Linked DNA regions of Homo sapiens: regions 2, 3 and 4 are each linked to region 1. Evidence: fine-mapped QTL for protein levels in blood plasma. A gene starts in region 1. Each other region holds a variant in brackets. All regions are shown on one strand. Distances are between the middles of the regions. Region 1 holds the start of LBP (lipopolysaccharide binding protein). Region 2 has its middle 97 kb from the start of DHX35. Region 3 has its middle 390 kb from the start of LINC01734. Region 4 overlaps PPP1R16B (protein phosphatase 1 regulatory subunit 16B).

What was found. PIP is the chance, under the fine-mapping model, that this variant and not a neighbour inherited with it causes the effect. Protein levels are from antibody-based Olink assays in UK Biobank. Linkage for the fine-mapping came from a reference panel and not from the study's own genotypes, which makes the PIPs less certain.
Region 2: its variant is fine-mapped to the plasma level of the LBP protein (UK Biobank, PIP above 0.99).
Region 3: its variant is fine-mapped to the plasma level of the LBP protein (UK Biobank, PIP above 0.99).
Region 4: its variant is fine-mapped to the plasma level of the LBP protein (UK Biobank, PIP above 0.99).

Annotation. Positions count from the first base shown.
Region 1 is chr20:38,339,165-38,347,270 of GRCh38, reverse strand. LBP (lipopolysaccharide binding protein) reads right to left here and starts at 789. Exons shown (of 15, transcript NM_004139.5): 1 at 631-789. The coding sequence starts at 754. RefSeq lists enhancers at 2,736-3,513, 4,294-5,070.
Region 2 is chr20:39,055,185-39,063,290 of GRCh38, reverse strand. No RefSeq gene overlaps it. Among named protein-coding and RNA genes, the nearest start is that of DHX35, 97 kb to the right of the region's middle. The variant A/T (reference allele first, on the strand shown) is at 3,372.
Region 3 is chr20:39,607,956-39,616,061 of GRCh38, reverse strand. No RefSeq gene overlaps it. Among named protein-coding and RNA genes, the nearest start is that of LINC01734, 390 kb to the right of the region's middle. The variant G/A (reference allele first, on the strand shown) is at 4,421.
Region 4 is chr20:38,914,411-38,922,516 of GRCh38, reverse strand. PPP1R16B (protein phosphatase 1 regulatory subunit 16B) reads right to left here. Exons shown (of 11, transcript NM_015568.4): 11 at 1-4,360. The coding sequence ends at 3,851. Among named protein-coding and RNA genes, the nearest start is that of FAM83D, 8.0 kb to the left of the region's middle. RefSeq lists an enhancer at 1,292-2,163. The variant G/C (reference allele first, on the strand shown) is at 4,729.

The DNA.
Region 1 (8,106 bases):
TGCCTGGCCTGCCCATTCTTTAAAATTGAGGAATAATATACATAAAGTACCTAACGGGCACAAATTTTAAAGGTATTGCTAAATAATTTTTAATGTTTATACAGGAATGTGATCACCACCTGGATCAAGATATGGCAACTTCCAGCACCCCGGCAGACCTCCCTCATGCCCTTCAGGGTCTCTGCCTGCCTCTAGAGGTGACCACAATTCTGACTTCCAGTTCAGAGGCATGTGTTTCCAAACTTTACGCAGAATTTTCCCAGCTGAGTGGTTCCCATCATCAGAGGTGGTGGCTGGTTTAATTGCACACTCTCTCCTGGCTGCCCTCCCTTCCTCATCTCAGTACCGATTCCCTACAGTGTTTCCTGGAATCATTTCCCAAATCAACTACTTGCACGCAAAGCTGTGTTCTGTTGGCTGGTGGAGGACCTCACTACCACAAATAACATGCCCAGGGCACTCAGCTGGTGGGCAGTAAGGCCAGAATAGGAGCCAGAGCCACCTGACCCAGAAGGTGGCACTGCCCCAGGGAGAGGGTCCGGTCTGTGTCCCCACTCCCTGTCCCCACTGTACCCAGAGCAGCCTGGAGCGTGGGTTTGCCAAGTCCAGCCAGCAGATGTGGCTTCTTACCATACTGCAGTCCCTTGTCGGTGATCCTGGCGACCAAGCCGGGGTTGGCACCCAGAGCCTCTGGGGTGGACGTAAGCAGCAATGCCAGCAGTATGGACGGCAGGGCTCTGGCCAAGGCCCCCATCCTAGATTCCCAGTGCAGTGGGCCAGGACTGTCCCAGCTGTGGATTGGGCCCAGGTCCCTTAAGTAGCCAAGGCTCGATGGCTGGGGGCAGTTCCTGAGGCTGGATGGGTTCCTGGGAGCGGGAAGGGGAGGCACAGGGACTGGAACCTGCTTGCGACATCACTGAAGTCATAAGGTCATACTTAGAAGCCAGTTTTCACTGCCCAGATCAGTGGATGAGGAAGCCTGACTCCTATGATCATCCCTGTCCACCCTCCCCACAGAAAGACCCCATATTCATCACTGTTCATCTTGCCTCATCTCAGCCAGTCTCTTAAGAGCTCGGCTAGGAAGGCCTGGTTTAGCAGATGAGGAAACTGAGGTTCAAAAAAGCCACATAGCTCCCTTGAGATCTCACCCCCAGCAGAGGGCAGGGTTGAGAGTGAAGCTACATCTGGCACCAACCAAACTCTCTTTTTTAAAATATATTGGCTCGTTTATTTAAAAAATAAATGTTTCCCCCAATGGGAAAACAGTGTTTCTCAAACCTTGCTGGTGGTGAAATTTTCTGGAAGGCAATTGGCAAATGTTTAAACAGTTGCATGCCCTGTGACCCAGGAATTCAATTTCAGGGACTTGCCCTTAAATACATAATTGAGTCAGTGTGCCAGTAAATCACTGCTCCAAGATACCACTGCTATGCTGTGGGAAACAGGACAGGAGAAGTGAGACCCAACCTCATGTATCCACCAGAAGGGCATTGGTTAAATGAATTATGACATGCCCCTTAAAGTGAGGCTGCAGAAATAAAGGTATTTCTTGGCAAGGAAAGGGATGTCATGAGGCATCCGTTTCCGATGGCACCATAGAGTAAGGTTCTATTTTGGGGGGTTCAAAATAGGCTTCTATGTTCAACAATCTGGAAAATATTTAGCAAGGAGTCATGAGGCATTGTCTCTGGTTGTGGGGGTAGAATTATAAGTGTTAAAAAAGTTTTTGCTTGTTGATACGTACAATTTTTTTTTCTTTTTTCATTTTTTGAGACAAAGTCTACTCTGTTGCTCAAGCAGGAGTCCAGTGGCATGAACATCGCTCGCTGCAACCTCAACTTCCTGGGCTCAAGTGATCCTCCCACCACAGCCCCCTAAGTAGCTGGGACTACAGGTGTGAGCCACCATGTCCAGCTAATTTTTTGTATTTTAGTAGGGACGAGGTCTTGCTATGTTGCCCAGGCTGGTGTCGAACTCCTGAGCTCAAGTAAGCCTCCCGCTTGGCCTTCCAAAATACTGGGATTATAGACTTGGGCCACCATGCCCAGCCTCTAAAATTTTTATTTTCTTGGGGGTATGGTCCCGGGCATATATTCGCAGTAAGTAAAGATAGTAAAATTTCATTCTGGAAAACAAAATTTATAGTACAGACTGTGTTTAATTTTTAGAGTTTTGCCCCAGCCCTGCTTACATTTGTGAGTTCTGCTTTGCCCTCACCCCCAGGAAGCCTTCCCTGACCACTCCCATGCTTCTCTGGATTCTAGAAAGGGTCCCCTCTGAGGTCCCAGAACCCTTTGCGCTTTCCCCACCACAGCATTAACCACTCTGCTTTTTGATAATTGTGGTCCTTTAAAAATATGCCCACGAATTCTTTGATATTCCTTCCATCAAAAGGTAATGTTTCTGCCCCCTTCCCTTGAAATTGGGCAGGTTTTCATGATGGCCTCAACCAACTGAATGTGGTGGGATTAACAGGGTGACTCCCAATAGGTCACAAACAGCACTGGCAGGCACTGAGGTTAAGATCAGAATGTCCCACGTTAAGCACAGGGAACCCCACAGTCCAGGCCTCTCTGCTCCTCTGTACCGTGTTGCTCCTGTCACTGGGGCTGAGGTTTGTTGGGATCCTCATCCGTCCCTCCCCTCAGTCCCCACACCACCAGTCTGATGGCTCCTTGCAGGCACGGCTGAGTCTTCCATTTCCTGAGATCCTTGCAGCACCCAGCAGAAATTGGAAAGAAACTGATATTTATTGAGCACCTACTATGTGCAGGCGCTGTGCTGGTTAAGCTGCACGTCTCCTCTCATCCTTGCATCAGCAACCCCAGGTGGATATTTTAGTCTTGTCTTGAGATGAAGAAACTGAGGTTTGGCAGGGTGAAGTGATGTAGGCTGCAGTCACCCAGCAGGAATTTAAGTCCAGGTCTGCAGGATGCCATTCCAAAACTCTGGTCAGGGCAGGGTTCTCTTGGGAGGCAACAAGCTGAGCAGAGGCCTCAGGGTAAGGAGCCAGCCTTTGGGAGGCTTTGGAGCAGGAAAGGGCTCACAGGTGCATCCCCAGTGTGCCTAGGGGCCTTTGCTTCCTGGACCTCAGCCTGCCCAGGAGGGGAGGAGAGTGGGGGAGGACATTCTGGAGCATAAGGATCTTATGGGGACATAGATGTCACTCTTCCTCTGGCAGCAGTTTAAGGATGTCCCTGGCTGGGAGTCATTTGCAGGGGTGGGAATTTCCCACAGCAGCAATCTTTGGACCTTAGAGCTGCCACATGGCCCAGGCCTGGCCTCCACCCCTGCAGGTGCCCACTGCTGGCTAAGGTCCCTGCTGATGGCCCAGGACCCAGCAGAGGCCTCAGGGAGCAGCACGACCCCACTGCTGGTCAGAACCCCTGGGCCTTTCTCCTACCAGGCTGTCCATCCAATTCCACAAAAGCAACAGCTGCTACCACTCTGGCCACCACTCAGTCTTATTGCAGTGAAATAGGGACTCTTTTAACAAGGCTGTTTATTGTGTTCTTGTGCAGGAGAGGGCCCCCAGAAATGGCAGTGCATCAAATGATGGACAGGCGATCATAAAACTGTCCCTCTGACATGATAAGTGGCCACGAATGGCGCCAAGAGGGAGAGGAGTTCCCTAACAGATAGTTGACATCATCTGGAGCCAGCAAACCACAATTCCCTGGTAAGGTCGAGCAGAAGGGCAAATGTTGGAGTCTGACTTGTATATGACCTTTTTCTTGCGGCGACGGACCAGTAAGGGAAAATCACCCCAAGTGAGCATGCGCACAACCTTAGTAAACACACTGCGCATGCGGCCCCTCCCAAGTGCTGGCAGGCCATTGCGCATGCAGGGAGGGCGCAGCAGCCCACCGAAGGGAGGAATCAAGGAGGAGAAGAAACCCCAGAACCAAGCCAGTGTATAAAAGCCCCGAGCCAAAGGTTGAGCGGGGCACTTGATCTCTCAGTTGTACTTTGCTTCTTTCAATAAACCTTTGCCTCTGCTTTAAAACTTGCCTGCGTCTCTCAATTGAATTCTTTCCTCTGAGAAGACAAGGGCTGGGAGTGTTGCGGACTCGCCACCGATAATATTCTCACTACAAAAGTGTTACTGAAAAGATTTTGAAAAACCCAGAATTTGGAATCCATAGTGTCTAGAATACTGAGCAGCAAATAGTAGATAATTGCCAAAGGAATAAACAAACCTTATGTTTATCTTTATGGACTCTGGGGCCAGATGGCCTGGATTTGAATCCTGACTCCCCCACGGGGTGACTTTGGGCACTTTGTGACTCAGTTTCCTCATCTCTACTTGGGTTCAGCCAGAGGGTGGCATGGCAGGAGGTCAGATGTCAGGGCACTTTTCCCTGCTGTCTTCTCTAGATCACAAGTGTGGCAGTTGGCTGTGTCCCTCCTGATAAGGCCTTGTCCTTGGCTCCTATTATCTCCTTGGGCTGGGATACCCAGATGCTTTTCTTTGCTGCTTGAGCCTTAGGAAAAACAGTCCCTGGTTGGTTTCCTCAAGCTTGTCCCCCAACTCTAGAAATAGCCACTTTATTCAAATCCCAAGAACCAATGCAGTTGGATTCTCTTTTCTTGCCTGAACCCTGTTGGACACAATTAGCAACACTGAGCATTTCTTCTGCACTTATTCATCTTTTGTGCAAACGCCTGCCTCTCGCAGAGAGCTTTGAATCCTTTTCCAAAGTCTTACAGGTTTTTTGTCAAGGCCCTGCTCCTAATGGGCTGGGGGACCTGGAACAAACTCCACCCCTCTCTGTTCCTCATGTTTCCCCCAAATGCAGATGAGGGCTGGGGACTAGGACAGCTTTTCAGAAACAAAGACGTGCAGTCAAGTCCCCCAGGGATCTTGTTTAGATGCAAATCTTGATCCATCATGTTCCTCTTGGGGCTGAGCCTCTGCATTTTAACAAGCTCCCTGGTGAGGGTGATGCTGCTGACCACGGATTGTGCTTGGAGCTTCGGGAACAAGGGACTAAATGAGCTCCGAGTTCCCTCCAAGCTCAGCAGTTCTCTAATGCTTCACTCTCCTTTTCGATAGTTTTCTATGACGGTGCCCACACTCCTGAGAACACTGACTCTTGAAAGAGAATGATGTTATGAATTCCTGCAGTTCTGAATCTCTGCAGGGTACTTTGGAGTTGGGAGTTTAATATTTATGGCAGCCTCTCCCCAAGCCACATCACCTGCAGATCTGAATGTGTGCCTGTGTACGCACACGCACAGACACACACACATGAGCCCTGAGACATGCGGGCTTACAAAATAAAAGTAGTAACGTCAGTGACGATCCTTTGTGGCTTGAAGGTTGCGTGTCTTGAGATACCAGGAGCCCCCATGGAGCAGGGCTGGTCATGTGGATAAACAGCTCCTCACCCCAGAGAGCCCTTACTTTTACAGATGGGGAAACTGAGACCTAGAGAGGGAGAACTGGCCCAGGTTACACTGTGAGCCTATTGCTGAACTGGAGAGGATAAATCCAGAGTTCTGGCCAGCCAGGGGCTCTGATTCTTGGGGTCAGGCCCATTCAGGCAGACAGCCCTGGATCATACATTGAGAATCACTGGCATAAATGTTTTGAGTTATGCAGATGTGGGTTGAAATCCCAGATCATTTTTAAAATAAATACTTACTGATCACCAACTATGTGGCAGGCATTGGGAATACTACTGTAGCCAGATATAGTATTTTTTTTGTTTTTTTTTTTTTGAGACAGAGTCTCACTCCATCACCCAGGCTGGATGGAGTGCAGTGGTGTGATCTCAGCACACTGCAACCTCCGCCTTCTGGGTTCAAATGATACTCGTGCGTCAGCCTCCTGAGTAGCTGGGACTACAGGTGTGTGCCACCACGCCCGGCTAATTTTTGTGTTTTTAGTGGAGACTGGGTTTCGCCATGTTGCCCAGGCTGGTCTCGAACTCCTGGGCTCAAGTGATCCACCTGCCTCAGACTTCCAAAGTGCTGGGATTACAGGTCGTGAGCCACTGCACCTGGTCAGATATAGTCTTTACAGTATAGTAAGAAGAACTGCGTTTATTCAAATTAGAGCAAACTTGGATTACTGTTGTCAACCCCTGTACCACGGATTTGACATGTATTTGATTCTCATAACAACTTTATGAGGTAGGTACTATAATGATGTTCCCTTTATAGATGAGAAATAGAAAACCTGAGAATTAAGTATACTGCCCAAAGTCACACAGCTGGTAAATAGCAGACGTGGGATTTAAACCCAAGATATCTGGGATCATGGTTCATACTCTTAACCACTGTGCCATGACCCTATCAATCATACCTCTGATTCTTCCCAATAACCTCATGCCGAGAGGGCAAGATTTTAACTCTCCTTTTCAAAGGAGGAAATAGAGGGCCAGAGAGGTTAAGGAACATTTGCAAAGTCACACAGCTCTTGAGGGGGCCGGATTTATGTTTGAAACCACCGCCAGGTGACTCCAGAGCCCAGGCTCTGAACAGTTAGCTTAGCAGGCCACACGACTTTTCTAGAGACTCCTCATCTGAAAAACAAGGGCAACCTTGGCTACCTTTAGCGGTTGTCATGAGGATTAAATAGGATCATAAGCCTGAAGAGATAGACCCAGGGACAGGGCTGCTCATGGCCACTAGCGGGACATGGCAAAATGATGAAGACAGTGCTTAGTCTTCCTGTGCCCCTCCCCACCTTCTCTCCTTGCAGAGGGTACTCCTCCCTCATATTTATTTAATAAGTCAGCATTTCCAAAAGGAACCCCAGGAAGGCTGTGCTTATCCCAGAAGGGAAGCTGCTCTGATGGTGAGCTTTTAGGCAGTTTGGAGTGAACAATTCTTTTTTTTCTTCTTCAATTGTCTTTTGCCACTTTATTGACATATATTTCATATACATAAAATTCACCCATTTAAAGTGTACAATCCAGAATTTAATTTTAGAACATTTTCAACGTCACCCAAAGAAACCCCAAACACACATTTGCAGTCATCTGCAGCAGACAATGCTTAGCCTGAAGGGAGAAGCTGCTCAAATAGTGGTTCTGTAGCCAACTTGGCAGAACCTTTGGAGTGTGTTGGGGAATGCTGCTCAAACCCTAACCCCCAAGCAACTGCCTTTCCTCAGCCATTAGAGAGAAGTTCGCAGGCACAATGTGTTTCATGCACCAATCTTCAGGTCCAAGAAAGATTTAGGTTGATGGAAAAGTAATTATTTTTTTTGGCATTAAAAGTAACGGCCAAGACTGGATTCAGTGGCTCACACTTGTAATCCCAGCACTTTGGAAGGCCAAGGTGGGTGGATCACTTGAGGTCAGGAGTTGGAGACCACTCTGGCCAACATGGAGAAACCCTGTCTATATTTAAAAATATATGTACACAAAATATTAGCCGCGCGTACTGGTGTGAGACTGTAATCCCAGATACTTGGGAGGCTGAGGCAGGAGAACGGTTTGAATCCGGGAGGCAGAGGTTGCAGTGAGCCAAGATCACACCACTGCATTCCAGCCTGGGTGACAGAGCGAGACTCTGTCTCCAAAAAAAAAAAGTAATTGCGGTTTTTGCATTAAAAGTAATGGCAAAAACCGCAATTACTTTTGCACCAACCTAATAATTGCATTTTTTTTTTTTTTTCTATAGAGTGTGGAGCAGGGGGTGCCTATATGTTACAGAAAGTAGAGGGCAGGTGTAGAAGGGGGTTAACTCCAAAGAGAATGAGGGTGGGGGATGGCAGGTGTGTGTCCATATCTACCAGCTAGTCTCCCCAGCAGCCAGAGGGCTCTTTTACAAATGTGAATTGGATTGTAACATTCTTCTGCTCAAAACTCTCCAGTGGCTTGCCTTATCTTTTGGAACAAAACCTAGAGCCCTTAACAGTCCTCATGGCCTCCCAGTCTATCCCACGCTGTGCTTCCCTTCTCTCTCTTCCTTCCGCCCTTGCTAGCTGCTCTTCTGTTCTATTCAGGGCCTCCATAGCCCCTGGCTAGTGGAGAAAAAGATGCATACTACTGGTGGACAAATTAGAGAAAGACTTTTGTTTCCTCAACCTGGTACAACCTATGTTTTACAGTGTACAACCTATGCCACAGAACAAAGAAGTTCTGCTTT
Region 2 (8,106 bases), 720 kb before region 1:
TCTCCCTCCTGTCCCTTCAGCCCCAGAGGCAGCAACAGCTTCCTGCTGCCCTAGTGCCTGGGTGTCTCAGCATTTCTTATTGGTTCCTTTCATCCTGGCCACTCTTGTATAAATAATCTCTTTATTAAATGCTCTTAAATAGAACCCTAGCATTGTTATAAGCATTTTGTGTACATCTCTTTCCTGCCAGAATCTTGACTGATTTATTTTGATTTCAAAAAATAATGATGTCTGTTACTAAGGACTAGGGGAAAAAATAATGATAGGGCACACTGAGAACTTGACGCTGCAGGTGGGGCTGTTTAAATTGGTAAAACCACTTTGGAAGAAAGTCTGGCAGTATCTAGTCCAGCTGAAGACATGGAAATTCTTCAGCCAAAGTTTCCTCTCCTGGATATTTATCTCCTGGTTTCCTCTCCTAGAGAAATGTGGGCCCAACTATTTCAGGAGATATGTAATAAGAATGCTTCGGCCATCTGCCGAGCGTGGTGGCACATGCCTATAATCTCAGCACTTTGGGAGGCCAAGGCAGGCGGATCCCCTGAGGTCAGGAGTTTGAGACCAGCCTGGCCAACAAGGTGAAACCCCATCTCTACTGAAAACAAAACAAAACAAAACAAAAAAATTAGCCAGGCATGTTGACACCCACCTGTAGTCTCAGCTACTCATGAGGCTGAACTAGGAGAATCACTTGAATCTGGGAGGCAGGGATTACAGTGAGCCAAGATGGGGCCACTGCACTCCAGCCTGGGTGACAAGAGTGAGACCCTGTCTCAAAAAAAAGAATGCTTAGGACAAATACCTAATGCATGCGGGGCTTAAAACCTAGATGACAGTTTGACAGGTGCAGCAAACCACCATGGCACATGTATACCTATGTAACAAACCTGCACGTTCAGCACATGTATCCTAGAACTTAAAGTAAAATAAAAAGAAACAATGCTTCAGCCAGCATTGTTTGCAATAGCCAAAACCTAGAAACAATCCAGAATTATAGCCATTGCATTATTATTATTACAGCCATACAACGGAATAATATTCAGCAAGAAAAATGAACTTCAGCTGCACACAAAAACATGAATGGTTCCCCCAAAAACATAATGTTAAATGAAAAAGGTAAGACACAAAAGAATATGCGTGTATTAGTTCACTTAGATAAAATTCAAAACAGGCCAAACCTAACTATGTTGTTCAGGGATATATACTTAGGAGAGGAAAATTACAAAGAAAAGCAAGGATTCTACCTGGCTTTTCTTACTTTTCTACTTAAATTTCTGACAAGCACTCTTTATAAGTGCCAAAGTCATGAAAACACAAGAAGAGACCAAGAAACAGTCATGGATGGAAGAAACTAAGGAGAAATGATAACTAAATCCAATATGGGATCCTGGAGTGGATCCCGGAACAGAAAGAGAACATTCATGGGAAACTGGCGACATCCATGAAGTTCGTAGTTCGGTAAATAGTGTTGGACCAGTGTCAATCTCAGTTTTGATAAACATGCTGTGGTTATGTAAGATGTTTCCATTAGGGGAAGGCGAGTGAAGGGTATGTGAGTATACAAAGGGCATACAGGAATTCTCTGGTTTATTTTTGCAACTCTTCTATCAATCTAAATTTATTCAAAATGAAATGAATTTTTTTTTTTTTTTTTTTGAGATGGAGTCTCGTTCTGTCGCCCAGGCTGACATGCAGTGGCGCGATCTCAGCTCACTGCAAGCTCTGCCTCCCGGGTTCACGCCATTCTCCTGCCTCAGCCTCCCGAGTAGCTGGGACTATAGGCGCCTGCCACCACGCCAGGCTAATTTTTGTATTTTTTAGTGGAGACGGGGTTTCACCGTGTTAGTAAGGATGGTCTCGATTTCCTGACCTCATGATCCGCCCACCTCGGCCTCCCAAAGTGCTGGGATTACAGGGGTAATAAAATGAGTTTTTAAAAGCAATGATTGTTACTATAAATGAAGAGCAGTTACCTCTTGAGGGAGTTAACTGGGGAGGGCACATGGGGGTGCTTAGCACTGTTCAATGTCTAGGCCTGGGTGGTAGATACGTGGGTGTTTATAAGTTTAAACTAGACATCTCTGTTTTATGCACTTTTCTGTATATTAGTTATCTCTCAAAATTTTTTACATGTTAAAAATAGATGAAGGCTGGGTGCTGTGGCTCATGCCTGTAATCCAGGGCTTTGGGAGGCCGAGGTGGGTGGATCACCTGAGGTCAGGAGTTCGAGACCAGCCTGACCAACTTGGTGAAACCTCGTCTCTACTAAAAATACAAAAATTAGCTGGGTATGGTGGCAGCCGTCTGTAATCCCAGCTACTTGGGAGGCTGAGGCAGGAGAATCGCTTGAACCCAGGAGGCAGAGGTTGCAGTGAACAGAGATCATGCCACTGCACTCCAGCCTGGGCAACACAGCGAGAATCGGGCCCCCTCCAAAAAAAAAAAGATGAAAATGACTGTCAGGCACAGTAGACACGTAGATTAGAAAATCACAGTTGTGGAAAGAGGAAAAAGAAGTAAGGAAAGCAAATATAAATCCTTATCTGGTAAAGAGAGAAAAAAGGGAGGGAGCCAAGAAGGAGGTCGCACTTCCTTTACCTCAAATGTCCAGCAAATTCATACCCATTCCATATATATAGGCCTTTTTACACAAACAAGATGCTACCACACACATTATTCTGCTCCCTGCACAATACATCGTGGGCATCTTCCACGTCGGCACATACACGGAGCAGGGCACATTCTTCATCCCACTGCACAGCACGGCATTGTGTGGCTCCGCCATCATTTATTCACTTGGTCCCCCATTGATGGATACCCAGGTTGTCTCCCGTGTCTCACGATGACACGCCAGGCTGCTGCTACGCGCCCCCCTGCACTCGAGCTGGGTACACCCCGGCCAGGGTTTCCACAGACTCAAGACCCCTAAATGGAACAACGGGTCAAAGTCAGAAAGCTGTTGTCAAGTATTGGCTGATGTGATGCGGGATTTTTATTTTCTGCTCTGTTGCTGGCATTTATTTATTTTTTACTATTTTTATTATGATAATGTATATATAACATAACACTGGTTGTTTTAAGTATGAAATGTACAGTTCATTCAGAGACATTAAATACATGCTTGCTGCTGTGCAACCATCACCATTATCCATCTCCAAGACTTTTTACATCACCCCAAACAAAACCCTGTACCTGTTAAGCAATAACTCTCCATTTCCCCCTCCCTCCAGCCTTGGTAACCTCTATTCCACTGTCTCCACGAATTTGACTGGTCTATATATTTCATATAAGAAGAACACAAAAGGACAAGTGTTGTATGAGCCCCATTGTTTTTTGGGTTGTTTGTTTGTTTGTTTGTAAGACGGAGTTTC[A/T]CTCTTGTCGCCCAGGCTGGAGTGCAGTGGCACAATCTCGGTTCACAGCAACCTCCGCCTCCCAGGTTCAAGCGATTCTCCTGCCACAACCTCCTGAGTAGCTGGGATTACAGGCGCGCACCACCATGCCTAGCTAATTTTTGTATTTTAGTAGAGATGGGGTTTCACCATGTTGGCCAGGTTGGTCTCAAACTCCTGACCTCAGGTGATCCACCAGCCTCGGTCTCCCAAAGTGGTGGGATTAAAGGTGTGAGCCACCATGCCTGGCCCCCATTGGTTTTTTTCTCCCAGAACTCACTCCAATTTAGGCACCCGCCTGGCAGAAGGAGCGATGTGGAGGAGCATAGAGGAGGAAAGTGGGGATGTTCCTGGCTTTGAGGTTCAAGAGGTAAGATGCAGAAGAGTGCTTGTTGAGTGAGCTTTTCTTCCTGCAAAAAGGGAATCAAAACAAGGGAAACATTCTAAGCTGGAGGGAGGAGGTCGAGAACAGACTAGGGATGAAGGTCTCCAGAGAAAGGCCGTGTGGGTTGGTATGCTGCTCAGGTAGGCGCTGAGTATGGGATGGGGGAGATAGTGCCTTGAATGAGTTTGGAGATCTGAAAGTAGAGGTGACCTGGGCTCCAGCCAGCTCCCATCTGCAATCTTCAGCCATGCTAGCAGAGATGGTGGGGGAGATACGCAGCCGCAGGCGACTCCCCTATATGTTCACAGCTCCAAAGTAGCACGGAGGAAGAGCTGAATGAGTGTGTGCACCTGAGAAGATCAGAAAAGTGAGCTGGGACCCACACCGGAAAGGCTCTCAGTGCTGCACAGTAAGGAGCAAATGGCGCAGATAACTCAGCGCTGGTCCACAGACACCTTCACCAGCACCATTGTTGCAGTGAGGGGTCACAGCCTAGCAAGGACTCACTACATAAGCACCCCCAAATACAGTGCCTCGCCCCCCAGGAAGCAAGGAAAGGTTCTTTACTAAGGTAAAGCAAAAATCCCCCAGGAAGGAACGTAAGAGAAGAGATCTTAATGGGCTGAAGACCCCCTCAAATGGCGAGTTTATCTTGAATTACCTAGAATTAATTTTCTACCTTCTGGTGGAAAAGGGAGGGAGAGGGAGGTATTGAGACAAAAAACAAATTCAATCACAGACTAACTAAAACTGACATATCTTGCCCACCTGAATTTCACTTTTTTTTTTTTTTTTTGAGACAGAGTCTTGCTCTGTCACCCAGCCTGGAGTGCAGTGGCACCATCTTGGCTCACTGCAACCTCCGACTCTCAGGTTCAAGCGATTCTCCTGCCTCAGCCTCCTGAGCAGCTGGGACTACAACTGTGTCACCATATCCAGCTAATTTTTTTTTTTTTTTGGTAGAGACAGGGTTTCACCATATTGGCCAGGCTGGTCTCGAACTCCTGACCTCAGGTGATCCGCCCACCTTGGCCTCCCAAAGTGCTGGGATTACAGGCGTGAGCCATCGCGCCCGGCCGCCCACCTGAATTTTAGAGACTAAAAAACTCAAAACTACCATGCACATTTTGCATCTTATATCATTTCCAAGTTGATATCCATTGGGGTTGGACCAATTTGTGCTCCCTTAATAAACACATCAGTGTGCCATTTCCCCACACCCACACTCGCATTTGTTGCCAACCTGAAAGGTACACTTTTATTAAAAATAAAATAAAATAAGTTCACTTCTTTCTGACTGCACAATCGGTTTCATCCACCACTCCATGGTATTATGAATTCTGTCCACAACGGCTCTTGGCACATAAATGGGAAGAGAATATCACAGCAATTTTAATGAATTTGGAACAGCAAGTTCTTGGCTGGGAGAATTGTGTGGCTTATTGAGGGATGTTCTTCCCTTTGGGGATTGTGAACATCATGTTCAAGGCAATATCCAAATGGAAACGACTCTATCAGAAGAAAGCAGGGAGGGGGTATGGTAGGGTGTCCTGCAAAGCTCACTGAGGGCAGAATCCAGAGGCTGGGGCTCCCAGAGCCCCAAAGATACCCCTGCCTGCCTGGCAGTCAGGCTCTCTTCCTCTTCTTCCTCCTCTCCAACAGACCCATATCCCCACCAACCATTGTCACCATCTCTAAGGCCCCTGGGCAGCATCCTGGACATTAGCTCTAGGTCCTCTGTCACCTCTCTAAACATTTACCTCTTTCTTTGCACCAGTGCATAGATTCTCAGGGCTGGAGGGGGCCTCACAAATGGTCAAGTTCAACTACACAACAGATGCCAGTTGAAACTCCCTGGTGGCATATCAGTAATGGGGTACTCACACCTCCCCAGTGCAGCCCACTCCATCCCTGAACCCCCTGACTGTACGGAGCCCTTTTCCTAAGGACCTAGAAGCTCAGAGGAAAGCTCACATTCCTCCAGGGACACAGAGTGAGTAGGGTCCCTCTTCCACATGACAACCCTCATTTCTTTGAGGACGGCATCCTACCCCCCAGTATGAGTTCCCCAGGGCTGCCGTACCAAATGGCCACAAGCTTGGTGATGTCAAACAACAGACATTTCTCCTTCTCACACAGTTCTGAGAAGGAGGGCAGTCCAAAATAGAGGTGTTGGCCGGATTGGTTCCTCCTGGAGGGTCCGAGAGAGAACCTGTCCCATGCCTGTCTCTGAGCTCCTGCAGCCGCCCGCAGTCTTTGGCATTTCCGGCTTGCAGCTGCACCTCTCCAGTCTCTGCCTCTGTCTCCACAGCAGCTTCTCCTCTGTCTATGTCTTTTCCTCTTCTGCATTTAGGGCTTACCCAGATAATCCCAAATGATCTCATCTTAAGATCCTTAGTTTAACTGCATCTGCAAGAACTCCTTTTATCTTTTTTTTTCTTGTTCTTTTTTCTTTTCTTTTTTTTTTTTTCTTTTTTTTGAGACAGAGTTTCACCCTGCCGCCCAGGCTGGAGTGCAGTGGCACAATCTCAGCTCACTGCAACCTCCACCTCCCAGATTCAAGCAATTCTCCTGCCTCAGTCTCCCAAGTAGCTGGGATTACAAGCATGTACCACTAAACCTGGCTAATTTTTGTATTTTTAGTAGAGACAGGGTTTCACCATGTTGGCCAGGCTGGTCTCAAACTCCTGACCTCAGGATATCTGCCTGCCTTGGCCTCCCAAAGTGCTGGGATTACAGGTTTGAGCCACTGTGCTTGGCCATTCCTTTTTCAAAAAAAAAAAAAAAAAAAAAGGCTACATTCACAAGTTCTCAGTGGACATATCTTTTGGGGCAAATTATTCAACTCAACGCACCCTCTAAGTTTTCTATTCTTCCGACAGAATGGTCTCAGTCCTCCTGCCATTCCTCAGATGGTGAAATGTCAAGGCTGCTCTATTCCCACTGGTACTGATGCGATGTACCCAATTGTCCCAAATACCAGCAGACATATCTCCATCTCTCCCACCAAAATGTCACACAAACACTTGTCAAGAGCCAGCTGAAGTTTCAAAACACTCTTCATCAAATTTCCTTGAGCTACAAGGGGCAGCATTAAGAAAAGAAAGCACTCAGGCCCACTTAGTTCTGCCGTTGACTGTGGTGAGCTTTTCCACTACTCTGAGCCTTGGTTTCCTTGTCTGAAACATAGGGACAATCATACCCAACTCATATATCAATGCTCCAAGCTCTCGAATAATCTCTTGTCTCACCTTAGGCTTCACATTCTTCTTAGCAAGGCCCTTCCCAGTTCAGACTCCCTGTATCGTCCCCACTCCACTGCCTCTGCCCTTTCAAGACCCTTGGCCCCTTCCTGGGCTATATCTGCTGTAGTGTCCTGGTTACAGTGCTACTGATTGAAGAAACAGAGGCCCAGACAAGCTCATACTCACAAACAGAGGCTGGTCCAAGACCAGCAAACAAAGCACAGATGGCCTCATGGCCCAATGCAACTGCCTTCACCCCTGCACCTACACCAATGCTTCCCAACGTTCTTCACATTATGGCACACAGAGAATGTGATAAAATCCGTAAGATTCACTGGGTACACAAATGAAGCTGCTCTGGTCCAAAGGTCCCAGCCTGGGGGCTCCACCAGGGCCAGACCTCCCCAGCCTCTTACCAAAGGCAGAGGGGATCTGTACCCCAGCATCTTTGGAGCCCATCTGCCATCCACCTTCAGGGCAAACACAGTGACCTGAGTGTCTGTGTCACCCAGTCCTCCAGAAGAGGAACTCAATTGGTCCTTTGCCAGCCTTGGACCTGAGAGTTCCCCTCCCAGAGAGATTTCCCCAAAATTGACTGAGAGCCAGTGCAACAGAAAGAGTTAAGGAGTCTACTTAAGATGTGAAATTAGCATGTCTACCAGTACCTATAGTTTCTGAGTTTTTTTGTTTTTTGTTGAGACAGGGTCTCGCTCTGTCATCCAGGCTGGAGCACAGCAACACGATCATAGCTCACTGCAGCTTCAAACTTCTGAGCTCAAGTGATCCTCCCGCCTCAATTCCCAAAGTGCGGGGATGACAGGCATGAGCCACCGTGCCTGGCCAGTCGCTGGGATTATCATTGCTGATATTCCTTAAGGAAGAAGGCGAGGGAAGTAAATGGGGGAGACACCGAAGATAATGTGCTGGATGCAGAATTCAGACATTGAAGAGGACAAGAGAAGACGTTTCTTCTTGGTCACTCTCATAACAGTTTCACTGGTCCTTAGGGTGGAGGGGTAGGGAATTACTACCAGAACAAGGAAGCTTATGGCTTTTTGTTTTCATAGTATACACCACGCTTAGGATA
Region 3 (8,106 bases), 1.3 Mb before region 1:
GCTCTAATTTAGCACAGGTTAATGGACACCTCTATTAAAGGGTTATCGAAAGTTTGACATTCAAATAACCCAGTTTTAAAATCAGAGAAACCTAGACGTTAAATCTGAAGGAGAGAAACTGTGAGAGAAGTCAAGTATATAAATGCCAACTTTAGACATTTGAGAGCAACCAATGGTTGATCCAAGTGCCTCTTCCCCTTTCACCTACCCTGACCCCTCCTGGGCCTAGGCTTTGGCATATTCCCTGACAGCTGCAGGCCGAAATCTTGCAGACTGGGGAGGTCAGGGAGAGAAGGAAGGGCACGCTTGTATTAAATGAATGGTGTCCCTCACCTCCTAAAATCTCCCCCCATGCCCCTGGCCCTTCAGCACTAACCTTTTCAGGCATCTAAGGCACATTTTATTATTCCCACATAAAAGGATATTGAAGGCTCATGGAACTTAAATGATTCGTAAACAGTCACACTTCACTAGTAAACAGTAGGAAAGGATTAGAACAGTCACTATATTTCTATTTATTTTCTCTGTGTATTAATTTAACAAATATTTATTAAGCACTTACTTTGTGCCAAATTCACATACTATCTGGTTGATGTTACTAAAGAAAACAGACTCTTTCTACACCTATGTTGAAGAAAGGTCCAGCAGCTTTTTATAAAAATAAGTTTATACCTACCCTATGACCCACATTCCACTCCTAGGTATTTACATAAGATAAAAGAATATACTAATATGTAATATAATGCTCATGGCCTCTTTATTCATGGTAGCCAAAAAACAAGATAAATGAATGTAACAGAATGTCACAGAATGCTCATAATCTCTTTATCTATAATAGCCAAAAATAGAAAATAGCCTAGGGATGCATCAACAGAGGAACAAATAAACAAACTGTGGTATATCCATACAATGGAACACTACTCAGCAATAAAAGGAATGATCTATTGATATATGCTGAGACTTGGAAGAATCTCAAAAATACTATGTTGAGTGAAAGAAGTTTTACAAAAAAGGAATGCATGTTCTATAATTCCATTTATATACAATTTTAGAAAAGGAAAAACAAATCGATGTTGAAAAACATCAAAACAGTAGTTGCCTCTGGGGTCAGTGGAGTTGGAGTTTCACTAAGAAAGGGCATAAGAAAACGCATTGGAGTGACAATAATGTTTTCCATCTTGATAGGGGTTTGGGTTAGACAGGTGTATGTGTTTTCAAAACTCACCAAATTGTACACTTAACGCTTGTGCATTTTACTACATGTCCATTTTAACCCAAGAAAGAAGAATCATAAATGAATATTGATCCCTGGTTAATAATGATATACATGCTGAAGTGCTTAGGGGTGAAGTGTACTTATGTCTTCAACTCAGTTTGAAATGCATTAGGAAATAAGATAAAAGAATGAATGGATGAACAGACAGAAAGAGGGATGGATAGATGAATAAATGTGCAATAAAGATAATACAGCAAAGTGTTAGTTGTTTAATACAGGGAATATGTACATAAGAGTTTGCCTTACAATCCTTTCAACTGTTCTATATGTTTACCATTTACCATTATAACATGTAGAGAAAAACAGTTTTTAAAAAACAAAAAAGACTGTTTCCCTGTGTTGATGTTCTAAGTCTAGCAGCAAAGATAAACATTATAGAAGGTGAACACACAGGTCAATATATAATTGCATATTTTGGTGAATGTTATGAGCAGCAAAGACAGGGAATAGTGTGAAAGATGTATTGGGGAAGGCTGTTTAGATGAGTGATCAAGGAAAGTTTCTTTTGGGAAGTAACGTTTTGAAAAACTAGATGACCTTGAAAAGAGGGAAATCGTGAAAAGTGTGTGCATCCAGATGGAAAGAGAAAGCATGCCCCGAGGAGAGGACAGCATGTGTGAAGACCTCAAGATATGACAGATTCTGGCTTATGCAAAGAAATGGAAGGAGACCAATGCAGATGGGGTATGGCCAACACAGAAAATGACAAGTGAGAGGTGAGAGTGGAAAAGTAAGTAGGACCTAGCTCATTTAATAGTTTTATAGGCTCTGATGAAACCTAATTGTTCTGATCAATTATGGGTTAATTAGAGCGCACCTAGGGTACTGTGCTCCAAGCTGAATGATAAAACAACAATAATGATCACTCATAATTACTGAGTGCCTACTATGTGCCAGGCACTGTGTCAAGCATATTATAACTGTTCTCATTTAAATTTCACATCCCTCAAGCCCCATACTATTTTAAGTAAATGTATACCCATGCGTGTTTCTTGCTTCACACATGAGGAAACTGGGGTTTGGGTGAGATAAGGATGCTTGCCTAAGACTGCACAGCCAGCTAGTCCAAGGTGGAGCTGGGACATGGGTCTGACGCAATAGAGGTCAGTAGCCACGATATCTGAAGGATCCTTGGGAAAACTGGGAAGGCTTAACCTGCAAGTAGAGACACCTCCCTGAAGCCACAACTGTCACAAGGAAGGGATATTTTATTTGTACCGTGTAGTCACAAGGATCTGAATTATCATCAATGAGAGAATATTCTTAAAAAGCAAATTTGAGGCCAATGCTGGAAAACAAACACAAAAGTTGTAATGAACAGATTTATCCAGAGATGGAAAAACCACATTATGGGTTAAGATGGTTGGTAGGTGTCCTTCCCTTGGAACTGCTGGAGCCTATCTAGGTCAGATGGTCATAGGACAGAGGTTAGACCTGATGCCTTTTAAGTGCCTCTCAGCCCTGAAATTGTGGGACAGGCTCTGTATGGGGCTGTGGCTTCTCCAGCCGGTTGGCAGCAGCTGCTTTCCTGGAGCTGTATTAATAACATCTTCATTGACACTGCATGCACAAACAACATTTTCTATTTAAACAATATTCATTGCTGGCCTCCTGAGAATCACTGGTGAGACTTGAGTGCTGGCTAAATAGAAAAAGGCTGAACCGGCTGTACAAGCACAATTACCCTTCACAAGGGGGAATAAGTGAGACTCCCAGGTGGGAACAGTGTCTGGGATTTTGCTGGTCTAAGATGCTGTTCTAACAGGGCTAAAGACAGGTGACCTAAAAGTGCCTGATGCCTATGGACAGATCTCTATACGCTCATATATAATACTGTGGTTCTTCCATCTTCCTAGAGAAATGCCATTTAAACAGTACAAACAATTACAATTTGCTCCATTTTCTGTAGATAGAAAACTGAAGGTTAGGAGGAGTAAGTTCATGTTCCAAGTTGATAGATTGTAAGGGATGGAGTTAAGTTTAAAATCCAGGTATGTCAGACCCTACATCTTTTTCTACTGCACTGCACTGTCTCTAATTAGGAAAATTAATAGTCCACTCTAAAATACAGCCATGGTGACAACTCAGGGTTCTCTGTTGAGGCTCACATTTTCCATGTTATTTCAAAGATACATGAAACTAAAGGATTAACTTCACACCAAAGTTTTCAGTCTGTACTGCTTTCACCTTAAGCCAGATCTCTACTAAAACATCAGGCCAATGTCTTATCTTCTGTATCTTCTTTTCTTGCATTTATTGTTATTATTGTATTTCCAACAAAGGACGAAACTTGTCCCTTTAAGAGTCAAGACCCTACAGTTTCTTGTAGAACCCCTGGCAACCTGAGATCTGCCCAAGGTCCTCTGGCATCTGATTAAATATGAATGTGGAGGTCACGTGCTTACTCAATTGTAATTCTTTCCTTGGAAACCCCCATTACTAAGACATGATTGAAGTGGGCTGGAAACAGGACCAGCCCATTACTTATCAATTCTTAATAGACTGGTAGAATATAATAATGATAGGATGGGTAGACACGATCCTGTCTGTACCTAAAATCCAATCTGAATGAAAGCCAACAAGTTGAAACGATACTCTAGGAGACACCAGACACTCTAGGAGACATGTGGAAGTCCATTTGTACTAAGCCCAGACAGATACAAATGGGGAACCCCCTGGCCACATCTGCTCAGCTGCCTATGCTCACAGTCTATGACCCAGAGTTCCAGCCTTAAATAGGCTCAGTTACCCAACTCTTCTGTAGGCAGTGTACCTAAAACTTTTCTGTCTATCTCTATCTGTCTTTACAGCTCCTATTATTTCATTATTTATCTGAAAATTAAGCTTCAAACCACGTTGCCACTTACCATGGGAGGATACTAAGGTTATATTCTCAAAAGAACTATCGATGAGACAACCTGGAGGCTAGTTTGAGCAATCAGTTTCATCTTAAGTGCCATCTTTAGTGGATTGGTACTAGCTGTTTGGAAGACTGTGCTGAAGACCCTAAAGCTATGCCCAAGCCCAAGGGGAAAGAAGCAGTAATTGGTTAGTGATGTTTTTATAGACACAGGGAGAAGGAATGAGAGCAAGTGTGTGTAACATTTGTCACATCTGGGAGAAGTTCTCTGTTTTTCTAATAAG[G/A]ACCAGAATTCCCCATCCATGCAATTTGATCAACTGCCTGTGGCAAAGCTATGAAGAAGGCAAAGTCTCTGTCTCGTGAGACAATAAAGTCCTGGGACTATTCCAAGAAAGAGAAAGGAGGAGGAAGAGTCCTTAGTAGGAAGCAGACTAAGGGCAGGACTTGGAAGAATTAACCCTGAGATGCAGGCTCATGAAGACGCATATGGCTTCTGGCCACACTTCGATGCCATCATATGGTCTCTCTAATGTCCTCTCATCCCTGATCAGTCCTGAGACATGGATAGTTGAGTCTGTTCTGAACACCTGGTTCCTAGATTTGGCACCTGTCCTGATGTCTTTCTATGCACATTCCTAACAAAATTCTGTCATAACTTTCCACGCCCTGATCAGAATACAACTTGTCTAAGAACCTAGAAAATGTTCTCCAGTGCCTCTTTGTCCTCCAATCTTGGCACAGTGGGTAATATCACTTCATGTTTATCTATTTCAATCCCTTCACTCTGCAAAAGGGAGGCCTGAGATGTAGAAAAGACAAGAGTTTTTTTTCATATTAATCACAGATTTTTTTAATTGAAGAATTTTTTTCTTTATTTCTTCTAAAAAAATGGGATACATGTGCAGAATGTGCAGGTTTGTTACAAAGATATACACGTACCATGGTGGTTTGCTGCACCTACTGACCTGTCCTCTAAGTTCCCTCTTCCAACCCCCTTCCCCACAACAGGCCCTGGTGTGTGTTGTTCCCCTCTCTGTGCCCATGAGTTCTCAATGTTCAGCCCCCACTTATGAGTGAGAACATGCGGTGTTTGGTTTTCTGTTCCTGTTTTAGTTTGCTGAGGATGATGGTTTCCAGCTTTATCCATGTCCCTGCAAAGGACATGATCTCATTCCTTTTTATGGCTGCATAGTATTCCATGGTGTATACGTACCACATTTTCTTTATCCAGTCTATCATTGATGAGCATTTGGTTTGTTTCCATGTCTTTGCTATTGTAAATAGCATTGCAATAAACATATGTGTGCATGTGTCATTATAGAAGAATGATATATATTCTTTTGGGTATATGCCCAGTAATGGGATTGCTGGGTCAAATGGTATTTCTGGTTCTAGGTTATTGAGGAATTGCCCTACTGTCTTCTACAATGGTTGAACTAATTTACATTCCCACCAACAGCGTAAAAGTGTTACTGTTTCTCCACAGCCTTGCCAGCATCTGTTGTTTCCTGACTTTGTAATAATCGCCATTCTGACTGGTGTGAGATGGGTATCTCATTGTGGTTTTGATTTGCATTTCTCTGATGATCAGTGATGTTGAACTTTTTTCATATATTTGTTGGCCACATAAATGTTGTCTTTTGAGAAGTGTCTGTTCATATCCTTTGCCCAATTTTTGATGGGGTTTTTTGTTTTTTTCTTATAAATAAGTTTAAGTTCCTTGCAGATTCTGGGTATTAGACCTTTGTCAGATGGGCAGATTGCAAAAACTTTCTCCCATTCTGTAGGATGCCTACTCACTCTGATGATAGTTTCTTTTGCTGTGCAGAAGCTCTTTAGTTTAATTAGATCCCATTTGTCAATTTTGGCTTTTGTTGCAATTTCTTTTGTCATTTTTGTCATGAAGTCCTTGCTCATGCCTATGTCCTCGATGATATTGCCCAGGTTTTCTTCTAGGGTTTTTATGATTTTGGGTTTTACATTTAAGGCTTTAATCCATCTTGAGTTAATTTTTGTATAAGGTGTAAGGAAGGGATCCAGTTTGTTTTCTCCATATGGCAAGCCAGTTTTCCCAGCACCATTTACTGAATAGGAGATCCTTTCCCCATTGCGTGTTTTGTCAGGTTTGTCGAAGATCAGATGGTTGTAGACGTGTGGTGTTATTTCTGAGGTCTCTCTTCTGCTCCATTGCTCTATATGTCTGTTTTGGTACTAGTACCATGCTGTTTTGGTTACTGTAGCCTTGTAGTATAGTTTGAAGTGAGGTAGTATGATGCCTCCAGCTTTGTTCTTTTTGCTTAGGATTATCTTGGCTATACGGGATCTTCTTTGGTTCCATACGAAATTTAAAATTGTTTTTTCTAATTCTGTTGAGAATGTCAAAGGTAGTTGATGGGAATTGCATTGGATCTATAAATTACTTTGGGCAGTATGGTCATTTTCACGATATTGTTTCTTCCTATTTATGAGGATGGAATGTTTTCCATTTGTTCCTATGCCCTCTCTTATTTCCTTGAGCAGTGGTTTGTAGTTCTCCTTGAAGAGGTCCTTCACATCCCTTGTTTGTTGTATTGCTAGGTATTTTATTCTTTTTGTAGCAATTGTGAATGGGAGTTCATTCATGATTTGGCTCTCTGCTTTTCTATTGTTGGTGTAAAGGAATGTTTGTGATTTTTGCACACTGATTTTGTATCCCGAGACTTTGCTGAAGTTGCTTATCAGTTCAAGGAGTTTTGGGCTGAGATGATGGGGTTTCTAAATATAAAATCACGTCATCTGCAAACAGAGACAACTTGACTTCCTCTCTTCCTATTTGAATACCCTTTATTTCTTTCTCTTGCCTGATTATCTTAGCCAGAACTTCCAATACTATGTTGAATAGGAGTGGCAAGAGGGAGCATCCTTGTCTTGTACCGGTTTTCAAAGGGAATGCTTCCAGCTTTTGCCCATTCGATATGATATTGGCTGTGGGCTTGTCATAAATAGCTGTTACTATTTTGAGATATGGTCCATCAGTACCTAGTTTACTGAGAATTTTTACATGAAGGATGTTGAATTTTATCAAAGGCCTTTTCTGCACCTATTGAGGTAATCATGTGGTTTTTAAGAGAAGAGACTTTTATAGAGACCACCCAGACATAGGGCAATAGGAGAGCTGTAATGCTGACCTCCTGACTCCTAGTCCAAGGCTCTTCCCAGTGTGATTTATGTTACTTCTCTGCTTCCAGGATCAGCTCCAGAGAGAAATGCCATTATTGCAAGGTAACAGCTGGTGTTTGTGACATACTGTACATATTTTCACTCTCATAACCATAGTGGGATCCCCTAGGAAAAGACCTAACATATATACCTTAGAGATGCTCTAGCACATCTGGGGGACCACTGGGAAAAACCATCATGCTTTAAGTTTCATGCAGTCCAAGAACTCACAAGGGGCCCAAGCCAGAACTTTGCAGCTGAGAACTTGTATCTATAAGCTACCAGAAATAAAAGCTGCCTCTTAATCCCTCAGCCAGCTCATCTTAAAGTATATGAATAACACTGACAGAAGGACACTCAAAGTACATAACTATGTGTGTTTATTCATTTGATGCTTTGTCCCTAGGTAAAATATGAAGGCATGTGAATTATTTCATAATTCCCTGTTTAATTTTCCATGGTCTCTGCCTGAGCAAGAATCAAGACTGTCTTCTTGAACACATACTCCTCATTCCCACTCCCAAGTATCTAGAGTAGAGCGAGGCATGTGGCTGGTGTCTACAGATGATGTGTGGGTGAGAGAGCGTGGGTGTGATTCTCTAGGAAGATGTGTAGGTTAGATAGATGGAGGGGAAGAGACCTGAGGCTGGATGCTATCTAGGAGTGGTTCAGAAAGAGATCATGTGAAGCCCATGGCATTACACTGACTCTAGACAACGAAGACGTATGATTTTTAAAGGCCATAGACGGTGGTGGGAAAAAGAATGGATCT
Region 4 (8,106 bases), 580 kb before region 1:
GGGTCACTTTTGCAGAGTCATCCACTGACCATTGGAGCCTTTGCTCTTATGTGCCCTGGGGCAGGGGAGACCATCCCCAAGTTACAAATAGCAAGAGTTAAATACAGCTTTTCTGGGCATCTTAAAAGGAGCACCCTTCTTAAAAGTACCCCAGTATCCTGCTCTAGGAGAGAGAGCAGGTAGGTGAGAGAGCTCAGGATGGGAAGGTATCTGACACCAACAACCACAATGGTCTTATGTTATTACAAAGCCAGCAAACCGGTGGGGCAGGACAGGGGACACACCCTTGTTAGCTTTTCTAAGCCCCTTGGAAATGGATTAAACAGTGCAGAGCAGTTTTACTTATGCTGTATATTTGATGGAGAATTCTATCCTGAAGTCTTTAGTAGCCCTGGGCCTAGAGTTTATTCAGCTTCCCCAAGCTACTTGCCAGAAACTCACAGTCTGGTGATAACCGCCAACTTTCAGTTGTTTGGGGCATATGATGGTGAGCCATGCAGCACCTGCTTTGGAAGTGGTCTCCTTTAATCTAATGAGGAGCTGCCATAGGACCTGGGTCTCAGCAGGAGCTAGGCATCTGGTTGACTTTGCCTGGTTACTCCCAGCTCCCGAATCCACCCCTGCCATGGAGGGAGGCAGATTCCCAAGGAAAGGCTTTGATGCTGAAGGAAGCAGCAACTTTTCCTCCCATTATCCATTAGTGGGGTGAGGGGACTATGTAATAAATGAGCCACCATGAGCAAGAAACAATGACTTTAAAAACCTGAGATGCATTTGGCAGCAAATTGCAGAACAGTCTTCTAGACACTGATCTCAAGCTGCTATTATAGAGTCCCCCAAAGATGCTGGCTGAAGGCAGCTATCACTGAAAGTTCCAGATGGACCTGGATGATGTCTGCCTGGAACCCAAGATCCAGCATCTATACTTGGTGGCAAATGTTATCCAGGGGTGACCATGACAGCTGTTCCCAGCTAAAGGAATTCAGACTCTAAGGATTCTAGGAGCCGAAAAGCAAAGGGTCGCTGGACGAAGATGCAGACACTTTGCCTCAGGTGACTTGAATGGGACTGCTGATGCCTGTGGTCCCCAAGGGACGGAAACCACAAGGAACAGTTCTCCTGACTCTGTCTTATTCCTCCTTTATCCGCAGAACCTAACGTAGAGGCTGGCATGTTGCAGCTACTCAGTAAATTACGTGAGTGAATTAATGAATGACCGCGGCTCATTCATTGGAGGTTGGTCTCCAACTTGTCTCTCAACACCCAGGAGACCTACAGGGAAAGCTCCCCAGGGACTTAAAGCCCCAAGAAGGGATGGTTTATCCCTGGCTGAAAACATGAGCCAATGCCTGAGAGTCACCTGTGTGTGAAGTCGGCTCCTGTCAGGGAATCAGCTGGGATTCCCAGCCTTCTGGGTGGAGAGGAATAGCCCAGGAGGCAGGAGGCATGCGGAAAAGGAGGGAATGGCCTCAGGCGCTCAGTGGGTTGGGCAGTACGTGCCTTCAGTGTTTGGCCCCTGAGCAAAAAGATCGGAAAACCTAAACAGCTCTCTCCTGAGGAGCACGCGGCTTCCCTCAGAACTCCCTACCTTGTAGCTAAGGTTGGCTCATGAGGGATTTCAGCGTCAGTCTGGGCTCATACTGTTTTACAGCCAATGGTACGTGTGTTTTAGATCATCCTGTCCTGTTCCAGCCACAGCCTGAGATGTTGAAGAGCCCACCCCAAATGGCAAGGTCGTGGGAAGCATCTGTGCACCTGTCTTCAGCCTCCTGGGCCGCCTCCACCCCTACTCTAGAATACATCTATCCTGGCATTGGGGTGGAGGTGGCCTGATGCTGAGAACCTCTCCCCTTCCAGCAGCCACCAAGGGTGCAGTCACTCCCATGGGCCCTCTACTTTCTGGTCCAGCCAGCTGCCCTGCTCCTGGGAAAGCATCACTCAGGCTCCCTGAAGTCCAGCTCCCTCTCTGGGTTATGGGGCTATGGGGGCCACAGTAGGGGGCTAAGAATGACAAAGAGCAGATCCCATGACCAAAGTTGTGGCACAAGGCGGGGATGGTCTTCCAGTCCCAAGCCCCTAGCCCAGGTGCCCCTCAGGGCAAGTTTCTCATAGACTGAGAAAGAAGAGGGTTAAAAAGAACCCAGATCTGTTCCCCAAATTAAAATCTGGAACTAGGAGACCCCTTCAGAGCTCTAAGGAGGTAGTTTAAGGACAAATAAAAGGCGCACAGAGCAAGGGATAACCTGCAGCTTATCGGGTACACCAAGAGGTTCTGGCTGAGCCTGTGGGCAGTGCCCATGCCATGGGCATCTCCAAAGGGGGTCCTGGGAGACTCAGCAGTGAGGGGAGAACAGCCATTCACAGTCCTCCCTCCCCAGCACCAGGAAGGCTGGGACTATGAAACTGCAGGGCTGGGCAAGACCCAACTCTAGCCCTACCATGGCTCTCCTGAATGCAGGAGGGGATATTGACCACGTGCACCCTGGATTCGCAGACTTGGGGCATCACCACTCCTGCAAGTGCAGGCTGGGAGCCCCTGGGTGAGGCGGGAACTCAAAAGGGCTGACTGGCAAATCTGTCTCACCAAGCATCCCCAAAAAGGCAAAAGCTGGGCCCGGGATCCCGAGCACTGACTCTGCACACATGACTGATGGAGGTGGAAGGGGGTGGGAGGTGGAGGCAGGCTGGCCCCTAATTGCTTGCTCTGACAGCTCAGTCTAAGGAGGGTTGGCTGAGATGGGCTGGGCTGAAACAGTCTGGATATTCACAAAGACCCCAGGGTGCTGGGCTCTGTCGCTGTTAACTAGCGACTGTTTTTTTTAAATTAACTGGCCTCTCTCCCTGGAAAAGCATTCCAATGGAAGCTCCTCACTTAGCTTCATTTTCCCAGCACCAGCCAGTAAAACCCAGTGACCTTGATACGATCCACAAAAAGAAGTGAATTCAGTTACCTCCCTCCCTCTAGGAGTTTTACAGACTAAAGGAATTTTTAAAATCAGATACACTTTGGTAAATACTGACCTTGTCCCCCTCCCACACCCTTCTGCCTTTGACACTTCCATCCAAGAGGAAAACATGATTTGGTTGATTCCAGGAACGAAATTGCCTGGTTTTCCCCCTCCACCCCTGGATGGTCACACAGCTGGCTCCTGGCATGGGCAGAAGTGTGGCTCTCAACAAGGCTGCGGGGAGCAGGTCTGTGTCTATCTCATCTACCCATGTAGATTCCTGGCTCCCTCTGAACACAGCGAGGACTTCTCACCCCTGTCAGGTGTGGCTGGTGGCTCAGACTTTGGGATAACTCTGAGCAGGACTATGGGTCTCAGCTTAGCAGGTCCCCTCCCCTGCTAAAACCACATTGGCAGTGGTAATGAGACTCTGAGTCTTAACTTCCATCCTTTTGGGAATACCCCACAAATTCTAAGCCCCCTTGCTTCCCCTGAGCCCAGGTATGTCATTCCTACACACACTGATCGAGCTTGTGTGTGTGTGTATATGTGTGTGTGTGTGTGTGTTAATGTGACATGCATGTACTGATCCGGAGAAGCCTTTATACCAAGAATAGAGCTGGGATCTCAAGCCCACCCTCCCAAGATCAGACAGCAGAGTGAACCAGGAGGCCACGACAGGCCTTGTGTCAGATGGCAGACGATGCAGCAGGAAGCAGAACCACGGGACGTGGGACATGGGATGCTATGGGCAGCCAGCTGAGGGCTGGGGTCTGAGTTCCTCTGAAAAGCAGAGCCCACCTCTCCCCAGCTGCCCTGACACCTCCCCAGCCAGGGCTGTTGGGCTGGCCTGGATTCCAGGAGCCCCTCCCCAGGCATCTCCCTCCTCCATCACACGGAGACTAGGAGATACGGCAACAGCCATGCACCTTCTCCTCCATCTCCTCTATGGGGGCCTTGAACTTTAAGAGTGGGGGATCTCCGCTGGTGACCGTGTAATATACCGAGGTCCCATTGCTGCTGTACGGTGAAGTTCTGCCTCCGATCAAGGGGGCCTTGCCTTCACTGCTACTCTCGCCCGTCCTGGCCATGCTGCTGCCCAGGTGTGTGCTAAGGAAGGGGTGGCTGAGCAGCTTGGCTGCAGCCCGCTGCCGCTTCAGCTCCAGAAGCGTCTGAGGGCTCTGTTCCTTGTAGCTGCTCCAGGGCGGGGTGGCGTCGGCCACGCCAGGGTTGCCATAGGCCATGCTGTAGTCAGGCACCTCATGCACCTTCCAGACATCCCCGTTGGCCAGCGCATACTGGTAGGCACTGACCGGAGCCCGGAGGCCATTCTCAACAGGCATGTCCAGTTCACCTCGTGGGATCTTGGTAGGAAATTCGGAGAGTAGCACGGGCTTCTCCAGCCTGGGGTTCTGCGAGTGAGAAGGACAACATTACCAGCTGGCTGGAAGATCTGAACCTACTATCCACCTGTCTCTCTGCTGAGGGCATTATTGTTTGGACTTTTCCTCTATCTGTTTTCTCTCCCTGGGTATCGGGGCCAGGGTTTTCCTTTGGGGAACCCCCAATCTATGAATTTCCGTACAGTTGACCGACCCCTGGCCTTGCTCCAGGGCCTGGATCATGACCCAAGGCCTAGCTAGTCAACATATTTCACTACAGGGATTGGCCCAGGGATGAGTTCTTAACTGAAATTGCTTCAGTGAAGCAACCCTGGGACTTTTGCTAGAACAACTGGGAAAGAGAAGTTTCTGTAGGAACTGTGGGTAGTAAGAATGAC[G/C]TAAGCTGAGGGCTGGGGAGATACTATGTTGAAGGGTCTGCTTGCAAGTAAAGTTGGCATGAAGAAAGGCTAAGAGAGACTGCATCCTGATGACCCATTTGAAGTCCAGGATCCTTCCAGGCTCAGACTTTTCAGTTGCACAAGCCAATAAATTCCTTGTGTGTAAGTCCATTTGAGTTGGGTTTTTCAGTCACTTGTAATCCTTCCTCTGTATATGAAGCATATCTCACAAAGATTCTTACCCAGGGATCCTGTACACCTAATAATCCTTGGATAACAAGAGTTTGAAAAGTAGCTGCTTCCTAAAAACTATAAACTAAAAAATAGATACATGCAACAACATTTAAAGCACAGCAAAAATCACCATGAACAGGGAACAAGGTCAAAAGACACATGAAGAAACTAGGAAAATATTTTCAACATATATTACAGAAAAGAGACTAATTTTCTAAAAGTATAAAGAGCTCTTAAAAGTCCTTTTTTTTTTTTTTTTGAGACGGAGTCTTGCTCTGTCTCTCAGGCTGGAGTGCAGTGGCGCAATCTCTGCTCACCGCAACCTCTGCCTCCCGGGTTCAAGCAATTCTCCTGCCTCAGCCTCCCGAGTAGCTGGGATTACAGGCACGTACCACCACACCCAGCAAATTTTTGTATTTTTGTAGAGATGGGGTTTCACCATGCTGGCCAGGCTGATCTTGAACTCCTGGCCTCAAGTGATCCACACTCCTCAGCTTCCCAAAGTGCTGAGATTGCAGGCATGAGCCACCGCACCCAGCCAAAAGTCAATTTTTAAAAGCCTATCTACCCAATAAAAATAGTAGGCAGGGGATACTAATATGTAGCCCACAGCAAAATATATAGATATACATGGCATTGGAATAATATTCATCCCCACTAATCGTTAATACTATAAAAATTAAAACAACAAAATATCACTTTTGGATATCACACTGACAAATACGTTTAAAGTGTGTTATTACTCAGTGTTGGCAGGGGTATGGGGAAATAAGTGAGAATGTAAATTGCTACAGTCTCTTTGATGGACAGTTTTGCATCATCCTTCACTGAAATTTTTTTCTTTTTTTCCTTTCTTCTCTCCCCAGCTCTTCAGTAAAAAATAAAAACAATAATAATGATAAAAATTTTTAGAAAAGATTGTATACTTTGCACCAGCAAGCCCATTTCACAGATTTTCTCTCTCATTAGTGCAAAGCCTGAAAGTCATCATTGGGCAAGCAGGACACTGTGGCCAGTACTTCTATTGGCATGCTCTGTAGCTGGCAAAAAGAATGAAGGAATTCTCCACAAGCTGGCATGGAAAGATGTCCAAGATATATATATATAATCTAGTTTATAATCTAGTTTTCTAACATATATTTATATATAACATACATATATAAATATATATAAAACGTACATATATAACATATATGTACATATAACATATATATGTATTTATATATAACATACATATATAACATATATAACATATATATGTTATATATATATATGGTAATATGTGATAAGGCAAAGAACACTTTCCATAGTAAGTTTCCATTTATGAGTGTGTATTTCTTCGCTTTCTCCTTTTAGAGTCAGGGCCTCACTATGTTGCACAGGCTGGTCTTGAACTCCTGGTCTCAAATGATTCTCCCACCTCAGCCTCCCAAAGCACTGGGATTACAGGCATGAGCCACCGAGTCCAACCTTTTTTTTTTTTTTAATGGCTCCTTCTGAACTATGCAGGCAGACTGATGCCATGTCATGGAGAGACCGTTTCTTGGTGGTCCTAGTCAGTGCTTCTCAAACTTTGATGTGTATGTGAGTTGCCTAGGGATATTGTTAAAATCCATATTCTGATTCAATAGGTCTGGGTTGGGGCCTGCAATTTGGCACTTCTAAGAATTTCCTGCTGATGCTTAGAGTGGCAAAGATCTGAGACACTGATCCCATCTTGGATGCACATTGGCATCATCTAGACAGTTAAAAAAAAACATGTACAGGCCGAGCGTGGTGGCTCACGCTTATAATCCCAGCACTTTGGGAGGCTATGGTGGATGGATCACTTGAGGTCAGGAGTTCGAGACCGGCCTGGCCAACATGGTGAAACCTTGTGTCTACTAAAAGAAAAACACAAAAATTAGACAGGCGCAGTGACGCAGGCCTCTAATCCTAGCTACTCAGGAGGCTGAGGCAGGATAATTGTTTGAACCAGGAGGCAGAGGTTGCAGTGAGCCAAGATTGCACAACTGCACTCCAGCCTGGGCAATAAAGTGAGACTCCGTCTCAAAAAAAAACCATATAGAACACCAATCTGAAAGCATCACATATTATATAATTCCACGTATATAACATTTTGGAAAAGCAAGACTTATGAAAACAGTAGAAGATCAGTGATTGCTAGAGTTTGGGGAGGAAGCGTAAGTAGAATACCAGGGCTGTTTAGTGGGACAGCCCTGGTCTCTTTCACCAGTTGTTCACAATCTCAACTGTCTAATATAACCACCTAAACCAAGTGGCGAGAGCATTCTGTGTGACACTATCATGACGGACACATGACATTATGCATTTGTCAAAACCCACAGGAGTTACGACACAAAGAGCAAACCCGATGTAAACTATGGGCTTTAGTTCATAATAATGTATCAATATTGGCTCATCAGTGATAACATATGTACCACACTAATGCTAGTTGTTAATAACAGGGGAAACCAGGGTGGAGGGGGGTGTATATGGGAAATATCTGTACTTTCCACTCATTTTTCTAGAGTTCTAAAACTGCTCGGAAAAAAAAAATCTATTAGTTTAAAAAGAAAAAAATCCCTGCTGGGTGCAGTGGCTCATGCCTGTAATCCCAGCACTTTGGTAGGCTGAGGTGGGAGGATGGCTTCAGCCTAAGAGTTGGAGACCAGCCTGGGCAACATAGTGAGACCTCATCACTACCCAAATATTTAAAAATTAGCTGGGCATGGTGGTGCGTGCCTGTGGCTCAGCTACATGGGAGGCTGGGCAGGAGGATCACTTGAGCCCAGGAGGGTGAGGCTGCAGTGAGCCATGTTTGTACCATTGCAGTCTAACCTGAGTGACCCTGTCAGAATGAGACCCTGTCTCAACAAAAGAAAACAAAACCCACCTATATCCATCTCCAGTGTCAGAAATCAGAGCATTGAAGGAAGAGGAATTAACTCCAGCCTGAAGGATGTGGGTTAGACGAAAGAGGTTTTCTCATGATGCAGGGAACTTCTAAATGTACTTATCTGCCTAATGCTTAATGAGGTACAAATTATGGGCTGAGTTCTATACAAATAAGAACACAATTGACCCTAGAACACCCTTTGTGGTAGGCACCATCATCTTGGCAATGTTGAACTGAGATACTGG